Linked DNA regions of Homo sapiens. The protein of the gene in region 2 purifies or fractionates together with the protein of the main gene of each other region. This does not show direct contact. Each region holds a gene or a part of one and is shown on either strand. Other genes may lie near its edges.

Evidence for each region.
Region 1: the proteins of VWA3B (region 2) and SERPINB7 purify together in Homo sapiens (affinity purification with mass spectrometry; one large-scale study listed by BioGRID and IntAct). This does not show direct contact.
Region 3: the proteins of VWA3B (region 2) and AZGP1 purify together in Homo sapiens (affinity purification with mass spectrometry; one large-scale study listed by BioGRID and IntAct). This does not show direct contact.

What each region holds. Positions count from the first base shown.
Region 1 is NC_000018.10:63,788,891-63,792,545, forward strand, and holds part of SERPINB7 (serpin B7), read left to right. Parts: intron 1-3,502; coding exon 3,503-3,553; intron 3,554-3,655. UniProt on the Homo sapiens protein: Might function as an inhibitor of Lys-specific proteases. Might influence the maturation of megakaryocytes via its action as a serpin.
Region 2 is NC_000002.12:98,233,633-98,237,287, reverse strand, and holds part of VWA3B (von Willebrand factor A domain-containing protein 3B), read right to left. Parts: intron 2,641-3,655; coding exon 2,521-2,640; intron 899-2,520; coding exon 811-898; intron 715-810; coding exon 558-714; exon of another isoform or gene 484-557; intron 1-483.
Region 3 is NC_000007.14:99,966,104-99,969,659, forward strand, and holds the end of AZGP1 (zinc-alpha-2-glycoprotein precursor), read right to left. Parts: intron 2,328-3,556; coding exon 2,052-2,327; intron 1,184-2,051; coding exon 900-1,183; 3' UTR 627-899; downstream 1-626. UniProt on the Homo sapiens protein: Stimulates lipid degradation in adipocytes and causes the extensive fat losses associated with some advanced cancers. May bind polyunsaturated fatty acids.

The DNA.
Region 1 (3,655 bases), on a different chromosome or scaffold from region 2:
TAGGCCATACCATCTAGGTTTGCATGAGTACACACTGTAACATTCACACAATGACAAAATCACCTAACCATACATTTCTCAGAAAGAATCCGTGTAGTTAAGTGATGCATGATTGTAATAAGTAGAAGGTTTAAAACTTTGAAGAGCAGACATCAGTCAAATTATATTTTATAACTTATATTTATATAAATGTACATAGCCATTTATATTTTTCTCAAGACATTATGTCATAATCAAATATGACTTCCAATATGTTCTCAGCCTTTACTGGTTAAACTTTCCTCCTTGAACTGTTTCAAAGATTAGCGAGCTGGTCCCATCAACTCCTGACCCCTCATTTTAGGAAAGAAGGATACAAAGGGACCACCTAAGTTCAAGCTGGCCACTGCTCATCTCTCTCTCCATCTTATACTGAGATGATGGACAGTAATGACTTTCATTTGAAACTTTTCATTTTGGGAGCCCTGAGAGACAAACTTCATCTATTTTCTGACATAGGATGAAACAATTATAATGATGTAGTCCAAAGTATAAAGATACATGCTTTTATTTCCTTTCTTATAGTAGTCCAAATAAATAATTCCATGGAGTGGAAGGTCCCTGTTGAACCTCCCTTTCCTAGTAACAAGTGACCAACTCCACTGTTCGCCACTGCTCACCAATGAAGTCGCAGCTGCAATAAAATTGACTAAAAAACTGAGGGAGGATTAAGGATACAGAGTACCCAGTATATTCTCTCTCTGAATTCTTTCTCTCAATTGGGAAGAGATAACTGCCATATTTTTAAAGGTATTGAAAATCCACATTGGCCAAGAGCTTATTCTATTTTCAAGTAGAGATGTTGCAAAGATGCAAGATTCTCAAAATATAGTGAAAGGTTGAAAATTAAAAGACTTATGCTTTCATCATCTTTTCTTTATCATAACATGCATAAATGTTCTTATAGACTGATATGACAGGTCCTTCAGTACCATATGCTCACAGTGACAGTTTATCTAAAGACTAAGAAAGCTCTTCTATAAATCAAATGCTGATGTTCCCAGGCTGTTGAACCAGAATTGTTCAAGGGTCTCTGTCACTCAGTCACTGCAGGTTCTAGTTCAAAATTTTGGATTTTGAATTTTTCCATAGGTGAAAACATGCCATGCATAGTCACTATTGAAATAAAAATCACTTGCAAATAATTAGGTGATAAAAACTACAACTTAATAACAGCAATGACTTCTTGAGCTTTATTGTAAGTATGGACGTTTCTAAACTGAAAAATATTAAGCTTTCCAGTTTTATTATATTATGAATTTAACAAATTTTTCTTTAAACTAAGCCCACTTAATATAAAAATCCCCAAATTAAACACATTTTAAATTTTATAAACCTCCGTAAAATAATTTTGAATTAAAGGAGCAGAGGGGGCAAGTGCTGAAAAGTTCTCTTCTTTTGTCAGAAGCCACCATGGTGAGGTTGATGACAACAATGATGGTGGGATTAGTTAAAAACAGTCAGCTTTGGGGAGGAAGCATTTAATCACTGTTATTCTGTATATACACTGCTATGAGAAAAATCCTCTATCAGACTAATATGGTCAAAATTATGCCTGATACACAAAATATAGTTTTTAAATTTGGTTGGTACAAATGATTTCCTTAACTCAATTTGTATAGTGCCTCCTTTGTGTGAGACAATGTGTAGTTATAAACAATAAGAAAGAAATATAAGGGATAATATCGAATATTAGAGATAGTACAAATTCTAATTATGAGTTTGTATTCTCGATAAGCTGAAAGTTAGGGGAAGCTCCACATGTTGAAAACACTGTAAAACATGGGGTAGGGAGGGAAGGGGAGAAAGAAAGAGTTTTAAGTGTTCATATGGATTTGACCCAGCCATCCCATTACTGGATATATACCCAAAGGATTATAAATCATTCTACTATAAAGACGCATGCACACGTATGTTTATTGCAGCACTATTCACAATAGCAAAGACTTGGAACCAACCCAAATGCCCAGCAATGATAGACTGGATAAAGAAAATGTGGCACATATGCACTATGGAATACTATACAGCCATAAAAAGGATGAGTTCATGTCCTTTGCAGGGACATGGATGAAGCTGGAAACCATCATTCTCAGCAAACTAACACAGGAACAGAAAACCAAGCACTGCATATTCTCACTCTTAAGTGGGAGTTGAACAATGAGAACATATGGACACAGGGAGGGGTACATCATAAACCAGGGCCTGTCAGTGGGTTGGGGAGGCTAGGGAAGGGATAGCATTAGGAGAAATACCTAATGTAGATGATGGGTTGATGGGTGCAGCAAACCACCATGGCATGTGTATACCTATGTAAAAAACCTGCACATTCTACATATGTATCCCAGAACTTAAAGAATAATAAAAATAAATAAATATTTTTTAAAAATGGTGATGACATAGAGTTTTAGAGCCTATTTAAGTAAAACAGTGCTTTTTTGCATAAAATGACATTTCAAGAAATTTAGGAATAATCATTGGTGGGAAATGTTGATAGGTTCCATGATTCCAAAATTACAAAAAATAACAGGAAAATCTGGTAGGTAAAACTTAACAAATATTAAATTAACACATGAATTGATGACCTAATTTGTATTGGCCCAAATGTTAAAATTATAGCTGCCCAGTCACTTCAGAAAGAGGCTTATTCATTCCATAAATCACAAAATAGTCCACAGGTATTTTTATTTTTATTTTTTTTTGAGATGGCGTCTCACTCTGTTGCCCAGGCTGGAGTGCAGTGGTGCTATCTCGGCTCACTGCAAGCTCTACCTCCTGGGTTCACGCCATTCTCCTGCCTCAGCCTCCCGAGTAGCTGGGACTATAGGCGCCCACCACCACAACCAGCTAATTTTTTGTATTTTTAGTAGAGACGGGTTTTCACCGTGTTAGCCAGGATGGTCTCGATCTCCTGACCTCGTGATCTGCCCGCCTTGGCCTCCCAAAGTGCTGAGATTACAGGCCTGAGCCACCGCACCCGGCCAGTCCACAGGTATTCTGAGTTACATCATTGTATAGTGAAGAAGGTGGTCACATTTCACTGACTATATTGAAAACTGTAGAGTTCCGCTGCTGAAATATGCTTTTCATTCAGTGTCAGACTGGGAGAGCTGTGCACTGAGGCATTAATATCCGTGTGTGGACTGACTACCAGACAAGCATGATTTAATTGGAAGCGATATCACCATAGCATTTATGTAAATTGGCACAAATTCCAAAATCCTAGTAAACCTAAGAGAAAATCAAGTTGTGGTAAAGAAAGAAAATGCAATAAAAATTAAAACCAAGTATGCCTGTTGATGTGCATTCAGAGTCATGGGGAGAATCTGCTCTAAGATACTAATGAACTTGGAATGGCAATTAGACACATTTATTGGGAAAGAATATTTTTATTTTTAAAACCTCTTGCAAACTGTTCTCGTAACCTCTGATTCTAATGATTGCTTTCCTTGTGCCCTGTTTACAGTTGCTTCATGTTAACACTGCCTCAGGATATGGAAACTCTTCTAATAGTCAGGTAAAGACAATATGTTCTTTTAGAAAAAGAGAAGGTGAGCCAGGTGCAGGGGCTCAAGCCTGTAATACCAGAACTTTGGAAGGCTGAGGCGGGTGGATGACT
Region 2 (3,655 bases):
TCATTTCTGCAGCCCCACACTTCTATCCGTTAGCAACGAACCACGAAGTGCCAACCCAACCAAGATCAGTTTCTCTCAGCTTAAAAAGAGAATTCTTATTTTCGTTGTTTTTGAGACAAGATCTCGCTTTGTCACCCAGGCTGGAATGCGGTGACGCAATCACCGCTCACTGCAGCCTCGATGTCTCAGGCTCAAGCGATTCTCCCACCTCAGTGGCTCAAGTAGCTGGGGCTACAGGTGCATGCCACCATGCCTGGCTAATTTTTGTATTTTTTGTAGAAACAGGGTTTCACGATGTTGCCCAGGCTGGTCTCAAACTCCTGGATTCAAGGGATCCACCCACCACAGCCTTCCCAAGTGCTGGGGTTACAGGCATGCGCCACCGCGCCCAAATTCTTAAAAGCCTCTCTCTCTCCCTTTTACTGCCTTTACAAATACTTTTTCCCCCAGTGGCTAAAATACATTTCTGTTACAACCACACAAGAAATTGGACTACTTTTTATTTGAGCAGAAAATGAAAATGGCCTCAAGTAGGGACGTATAGACAATCAGTTTACCTCATCAAAGACCTTAGACACGACATGCTTGTCCAGGACGGGAACATAGGTGGAGCTGTGCGGGACTGCTGCCACTGACAAGGCATCCATGAGGGTGAGTTTCTTGGCGACCAAGCCATAGGTCTTCAGCCAGTTTTCTGAAGACACATCTGAAGAACTAAGAACACAAGGAGGTGGTGTTTTAAAATTTACAACTTGATGGTTAACCAACAGAAGCATAACAGAACTGTCTTTGTCAAATTAAAGAACTCACTCGTGGTCATAAACCTGGCTTCCTTCTCGCGTCACCTTTTCTGACGATTTGTCATCCAGCCACTCCTCAGCCAGCAAGATGCTCATTTCTGTGGAAGGGGAAGTGGCAGTTGTATATTTTCCTCACATATGGGTTTTACATAAAATGCAAAGGGATCACGCTTGTCTCAGTCCAGCTGTGACTGAGAGCTAATAAATGGACCACATTTCAGAGAACATATCCTGATTTGTCAGAGCGGGCTCTCAGGCAAGATTCCTTTGCAATTTACACTACAGACCAATGCATGGGTAAATACGGCACTACCACTGTTTTGAGACAATGAGACATATTCATTCTTTCATTCAGAAAACACACCTCTAAAAAGTGTGCAATAAAAATACCATTAACCAATGATTGTTCAATATTGACCTTTTGGACTCCCCCAAATTATATGAGAGCCTTGATCAACATTTTAATTTCTGATAGATTGTTTAGTGGTTCTTCAGCTTTCTGTAGAAAACCAAAAAACCTGTTAGGTCCTGTTTAGTTGTAAGTTCAAATTTTCAAATTAATATTTGGGGTTTTACATATATCCTTATATAAATGTGTATTTATAAATGAAAAGGGATATTTGTTGAATGAGCAGCATTCAGAAGGAGGCGTGTTTGGGTGTGAGCTAGTTAACTAGCTAAGAAATCATATCCCAATCATCATTTGATAAGCCCTTTAAGGAATGTGCATGTAGACAACTTAGGAAATATGGCAGGTTAATTGAAAGGGAGCCACTGTGCCCGGCCAAAATCCCAGCACTTTGGGAGGCCAAGGCGGGTGGCTCACTTGAGGTCAGGAGTTTGAGACTAGCCTGACCAATATGGTGGAACCCTGTCTCTACTAAAAATACAAAAATTAGCTTGGCCTGTTGGCGGCTGCCTGTAATCCCAGCTACTCGGGAGGCTGAGGCAGGAGAATTACTTGAACCGTGGAGGCAGAGGTTGCAGTGAGCCGAGATCACGCCACTGCACTCCAGCCTAGGTAACAAAGTGAGACTCTACCTCAAAAAAAAAAAAAAAGTGAGGAAAAGATATCAGACAGATCAGCAATGAAGAAAACAGAGTTCTAAATTAAACTATGACTGTGTAGCCACAGGGGCACATTTGCTACTCAGCCACTTCCTACTCCCTAGGGGATTGTGTGTATATGTGTGTGTTTAACTGGGATTTTAAATGTATCAACCATTTGAAATAAAAGAAAAATGTTACAGGCATCAAACGTTTCAAAACTTATTACTTTAAGATTAATAATTTTATCAATAGTAATAAAAATTGAGTGGGAAAATCACATTTTCCTCATATGCAGTCCCCAAAAGGCTGACAATTTGGACCAGAGAGGGGCTCATCTGATAGCATCATCCATTGAAGAAAGGGAAGAAAAAAAATCAACTATGAAATATGACAGTTTCAAAATCAAACCATGGAGGGGCAGCAGCATGACCATAGTTATGTGAGCCACGTGTGTATTAAACACCCAGGCACCATAAGCACAAGGCCAGCTCTCAGAAAATCCAGGTCATAAAGCAGGCAGACCTGACTTACAAGGGATTCCTTTGAATAGGAAGCAATCTGGGCCCATTTAAAATATGATTTCCCCAACATATCTACACGCAGCTCTTTCTGGAACAGATACACTGTGGAAAGGGAGGCTGGTTGGCCACAGAGATGCTTTCTGGCTTGCCTTTGTCACTTAGAGCAGTCCTCCGGCTGCTGGCATTGGAGAGGCCATCCTTCCTTTCACTGCAAGCTGAGCTCCTGAGGGAGGACATCTGGCTTCTGAGCAGGCTGGTTTTGGTTGATTCTGTTGGTATCACAGAGGGAAGAGTTAAAGGAATTGGGGATGGAAGGAGATACTTCATTAGATATAACTATTTTATCAGCTCCTTAAAGTAAGAATGCAACCTTTGTTTCCCAACCCTCTGAGGATGGTGCTGCCACAAACTGAATGCTGCCAGGATGCCCTGCTCCCTTTATCTGAATTTCAGCTGGACCCCTCCTGGAGAGAAGTCAGCTTCCACACTCATTCAGGCTGCTGGCAGAACCCAGCTCCTTGCAATTGTAGGACTGAGGCCCCATTTCCTTGCTGACTGTAGCCCAGCGGCCTCTCTCAGCTGCTTAAGGCATCTGTATTACTTCTCACACGACTCTTCCATCTTCAAGACAGTAATAGCACATTGAATTCCTCTTGTGGTTCAAATCTGTCTGACTTTCTCTTCTGCCACCAGCTGGAAATAGCCCCTGCTTTTCACAGTTCCCACAGTTACACTGGACTCACCTAGATAACTCTGTCTAGGTCAGCATAACCTGGTCATGAGAGTGACGTGTCATCATATTCAAAGATTGCAGGGTTCAGGGCAGGACATCTTTGGTAAGCCATTCTAGAAATTCTGCCCACCACAATTGCTGTCCAGATCTTTGCTTATGTTATTTTCTACCCTGTGATGTGTCCCTTCTACAGGCAAATGACAACTTAGCAAATATTGACCTTGAATCTGTGTGCTTTAGAGGACAATGAGCCTGTGCCAAGTCATCTTGATTACTTTTTATATTTGATAACATAAACCACACTAATTGTAATGTAGTCTGTACTTCATAATTTGGAGGCTTTAGAAGTACCTAGTTCCAAGGCTTTATGTCAGCATTCGTGAATGAAATGTGTCTGTGTTTTCACTGAGAGGACTTACCCTCTCCTACAAGAAATTAGATAGTTAGAGTGAAGATTAGCTAGTAATCTGCAAATGGGTAGCTTTCACACAGAAAATTAACACCAGTGGTCTCCATGCATAGAGAAGGAGTGTGCTATACGGTAATCATTG
Region 3 (3,556 bases), on a different chromosome or scaffold from region 2:
TGTGGTATTGGGAGTAATGTCAGCTTCTCACCTTTTGGTTATTAAGAACAATGTCACGGGGGGAGGATGTAGACCCCTGCAATATTGGGAGTAATATCCTCTCCACCCCTGGATATTAGGAACAATATCAAAGGGGGGGTGTACAACCCCTGCAATATTTGGGTAATATCATCCTTGTCCCCCCTGAATATTAGGAACAATATCACAGAGAGTTTAAACACCCCTTGTATATTGGGAGAGATATTCTCCCCTCCCCAACTGGGTATTAGGAACAATATCAAGGGGGGGTGTACACCTTCTGTGATATTGGGAGTAATATCATCTTTCTTCACTCTGGACATTATGAACAATATCACAGGGGGGTGTACACTGGCAAGTAATATCATCCTCTCCCTTCATGGGTATTAGGTACAATACCACAAGGCGTCTAGGGACACCTGAACAATCCCCAAGGGAAAGGGGGTTCAGGCCACACTTGGGATTGCCCAGGTCAAGGTGCCCAGGAACCATGGCCTCCAGGGGAAACCAAGAGTTTCAGATGAATTCAGTGCTTGAGGGCAGAACCAATGAGAAAATCTAGTCACATTTCTACAGCGCATCACCGTTAAAAAAAGGATTCTCTGTTATGCTAGGCAAGGAGGGATGATTATTTATTAGCTTCTACAGATTAGACAATGGGGTGGGGGTGGGCTCAAGGTGAGATGATTTTTTGGGTCCAAGTCTACTCAAGACAGGCATCCCAGTCTTCGGTCTCCAAATCCACCTCCTGTCTGTCCCCCCACACTGCTCCTCAGGCCTTGTGGATCCATTGACTGTGATTTCTGTGGTTCAGCTCCCACATCAGGCAGGAAGGGCAGCTACTGGGTCTGAGATCCCACATTGCCTCCAACCCTTGCTTCCTAGCTGGCCTCCCAGGGCACCACGAGGGGCTGGGCCAGGCTGCTGTGCTGCACGTGGCAGGAGTAGGGGGCTGTGTCCTGCGGGGGCACTGCCACCACCACCCAGGACTGGTAAGTGCCATTTCCATTGTGAAGAACATCTCCCCGTAACTCAGGCTCCTGCACCTCGCCGGCCCGAGTCCAGTGCACATCAATTTTCCCTGGGTAGAAGTCGTAGGCCAGGCACTTCAGTTTCTTCTTTTCTCCTGGGGCCTGGTGGCTGGTGACCACCACAGAGGGAGGATCTGTGGAGGGATAGAGTGTGACACTGCAGGCTTGAGGTGGACTTCTCCCGGCCCAGGTCTCTTCCTACCCCCACCCCTGGATGTCAGCGATCAGCAGAGCTCGAAGCTCTGTACCTGCCCACCCCCAGCCCCGGGAGACTTTCCAGAATATCAGGGAAGGCTGACGCTTTCCCTCTTGCCCAATCCCCACCTCACCCATGTATTGACTCTGACGGCAATAAGTTGTGAATGCTCCGTGTGCTTCTCCATGTTTTCCCACATCTCAGTGGGCTTTGGAGTTCTGTCCCCCAGTCTCAGTCCAGCTGCTTGGTTCAGCCCATGCCTCTATCCAGCAACCACTTCCCTGCAGCACTGCACAATCCTGAGTCTCACTACGTCTCCAATCCAAGTCTCAGCTTGCAGCCATCAATTCCGCTCACACTGGCTTGCTCTTGTCCTTCTGGGGCTGACATTTTACACGCCTCCCTTCTCTCCACCACCCAGATGGGAGGCATCATTGTAGAGATAAAAAACGATGGGATTTGGAATCTGAAATCTGGAATTTGAGTCCCAGCTCTGCCTCTTACAGACAGTGTTACCCTCACCTCCCTAACCTCAAGCTCCTTGTCTGTTAATTGGAGATGATTTGGGGACACTCATCAAGAAAGAATGGCCTTCCTGGCCCATTCTGCCTGAAATTTTGATGATGTTCTTTTTGGACCACAAATTATATTATCCCAGGGAAGGAATAAATCCTAAAAGATGAAAGCTGGGGGTCTGAGGGACATCCAGGAACAGATGAGACCGGACTAAGATGTTGCCTGAGCTCCTAGCCTGAGATCGTCTTTTATTCTGGGCTCAGTACTGGGGAGCAGGAAGCAGTGAGTACCTTGCCGGTCCAGGATATTTTTGCTGTATTTCAGGTATTTCCGCAGAGTCGCAGGGCACTCCTCCTCCAGGTAAGCCTTGGCCCGCTGCACGTAGACTGGTTCTGCCTCCCACTTCTGCTTGGTTATCTGGGCTGCTGGGTCGAAGGGGACCCAGGCTGGGATTTCTTTGTTGAATTCAATGTAGTCCTTTCCATCATAGTAATATTTCCAGAATGCTCCGCTGCTTCTGTTATTCTCGATCTCACAACCAAACCTTCCCTGCAATACGTGAGACCCTGAAAACTCCCCCGACCCCACAGAGAGACAGTCAGCCTGGTGAGAAATTTATCAAAATAACTCTTAGTCTTGCACATTGGGCAACCCAAAAGAAATAAAGGTTTTTGCAATTCAAGCATGCAATCCCTTTATCAAGACAAATAGGTTATTACTCCAATATATACAACAGACAGAGAGGGGCTAACTCAGTTTGGTTTGGCATTTCAGGTTTGTCTCAGATGAGATATGTTCCTCCTTAAGAGAGCTACAGCCTGGGCGCTGTGGCTCATGCCTGTAATCCCAGCACTTTGAGAAGCTGAAGCGAGTGGATCGCTTGAGCCCAGGGGTTCCAGACCAGCCAGGGTGATATGGCGAAATCCCACCACTACAAAAAATATAAAAATTAGCGCAGCATGGTGGTGCATGCCTGTAGCCCCAGCTACTCAGGAGGCTGAGGTGGGAGGATCACTTCAGCCTGGGAAGTCAAGGCTGCAATGAGCCAAAATCACACTACTGCATTTCAGCCTGGGTGACAGAGTGAGACCCTATCTCAAAAAAAAAAAAAAAAAAAAAAAAAAAAGCACCAGGCCCAGTGGCTCACACTTGTAATCCCAGCACTTTGAGAGGCTGAGGAGGATGGATCACCTTAGGTCATGAGTTCGAGACCAGCCTGGCCAATATGGTGAAACCCCATCTCTACCAAAAATATAAAATTAGGCTGGACGCAGTGGCTCATGCCTGTAATCCCAGCAGTTAGGGAGGCTGAGGCCAAAGGATCACCTGAGGTCAGGAGTTTGAGACCAGCCTGGCCAACATGGTAAGACCTCATCTCTACTAAAAATACAAAAATTTGCTGGGTGTGCTGGCACATGCCTGTAATCCCAGCTACTCATGAGGCTGAGGCAGGAGAATCGCTTGAACCTGGGGGACAGAAGTTGTAGTGAGCCGAGATGGAGCCATTGTACATCAGCCTGAAAGACAGAGCAAGACTCAGTCTTAAAAAAAAAAAAAAAATTAACCAGGAGTAGTGACACATGCCTGTAGCCTGTAGTCCCAGTTATCGGGAGGCTGAGGCAGGAGAATCCCTTGAACCCAGGAGGCAAAGTTTGCAGTGAGCTGAGATTGCATCACTGCACTCCAGCTTGGGTGACAAGAGCAAAACTCCATCTCAAAAAAAAAAAAGCTACAGAATATGAATATATTTCTATCTCTTCTATAGCATCTCTTCTAAGGACAATTATTTGTTTGA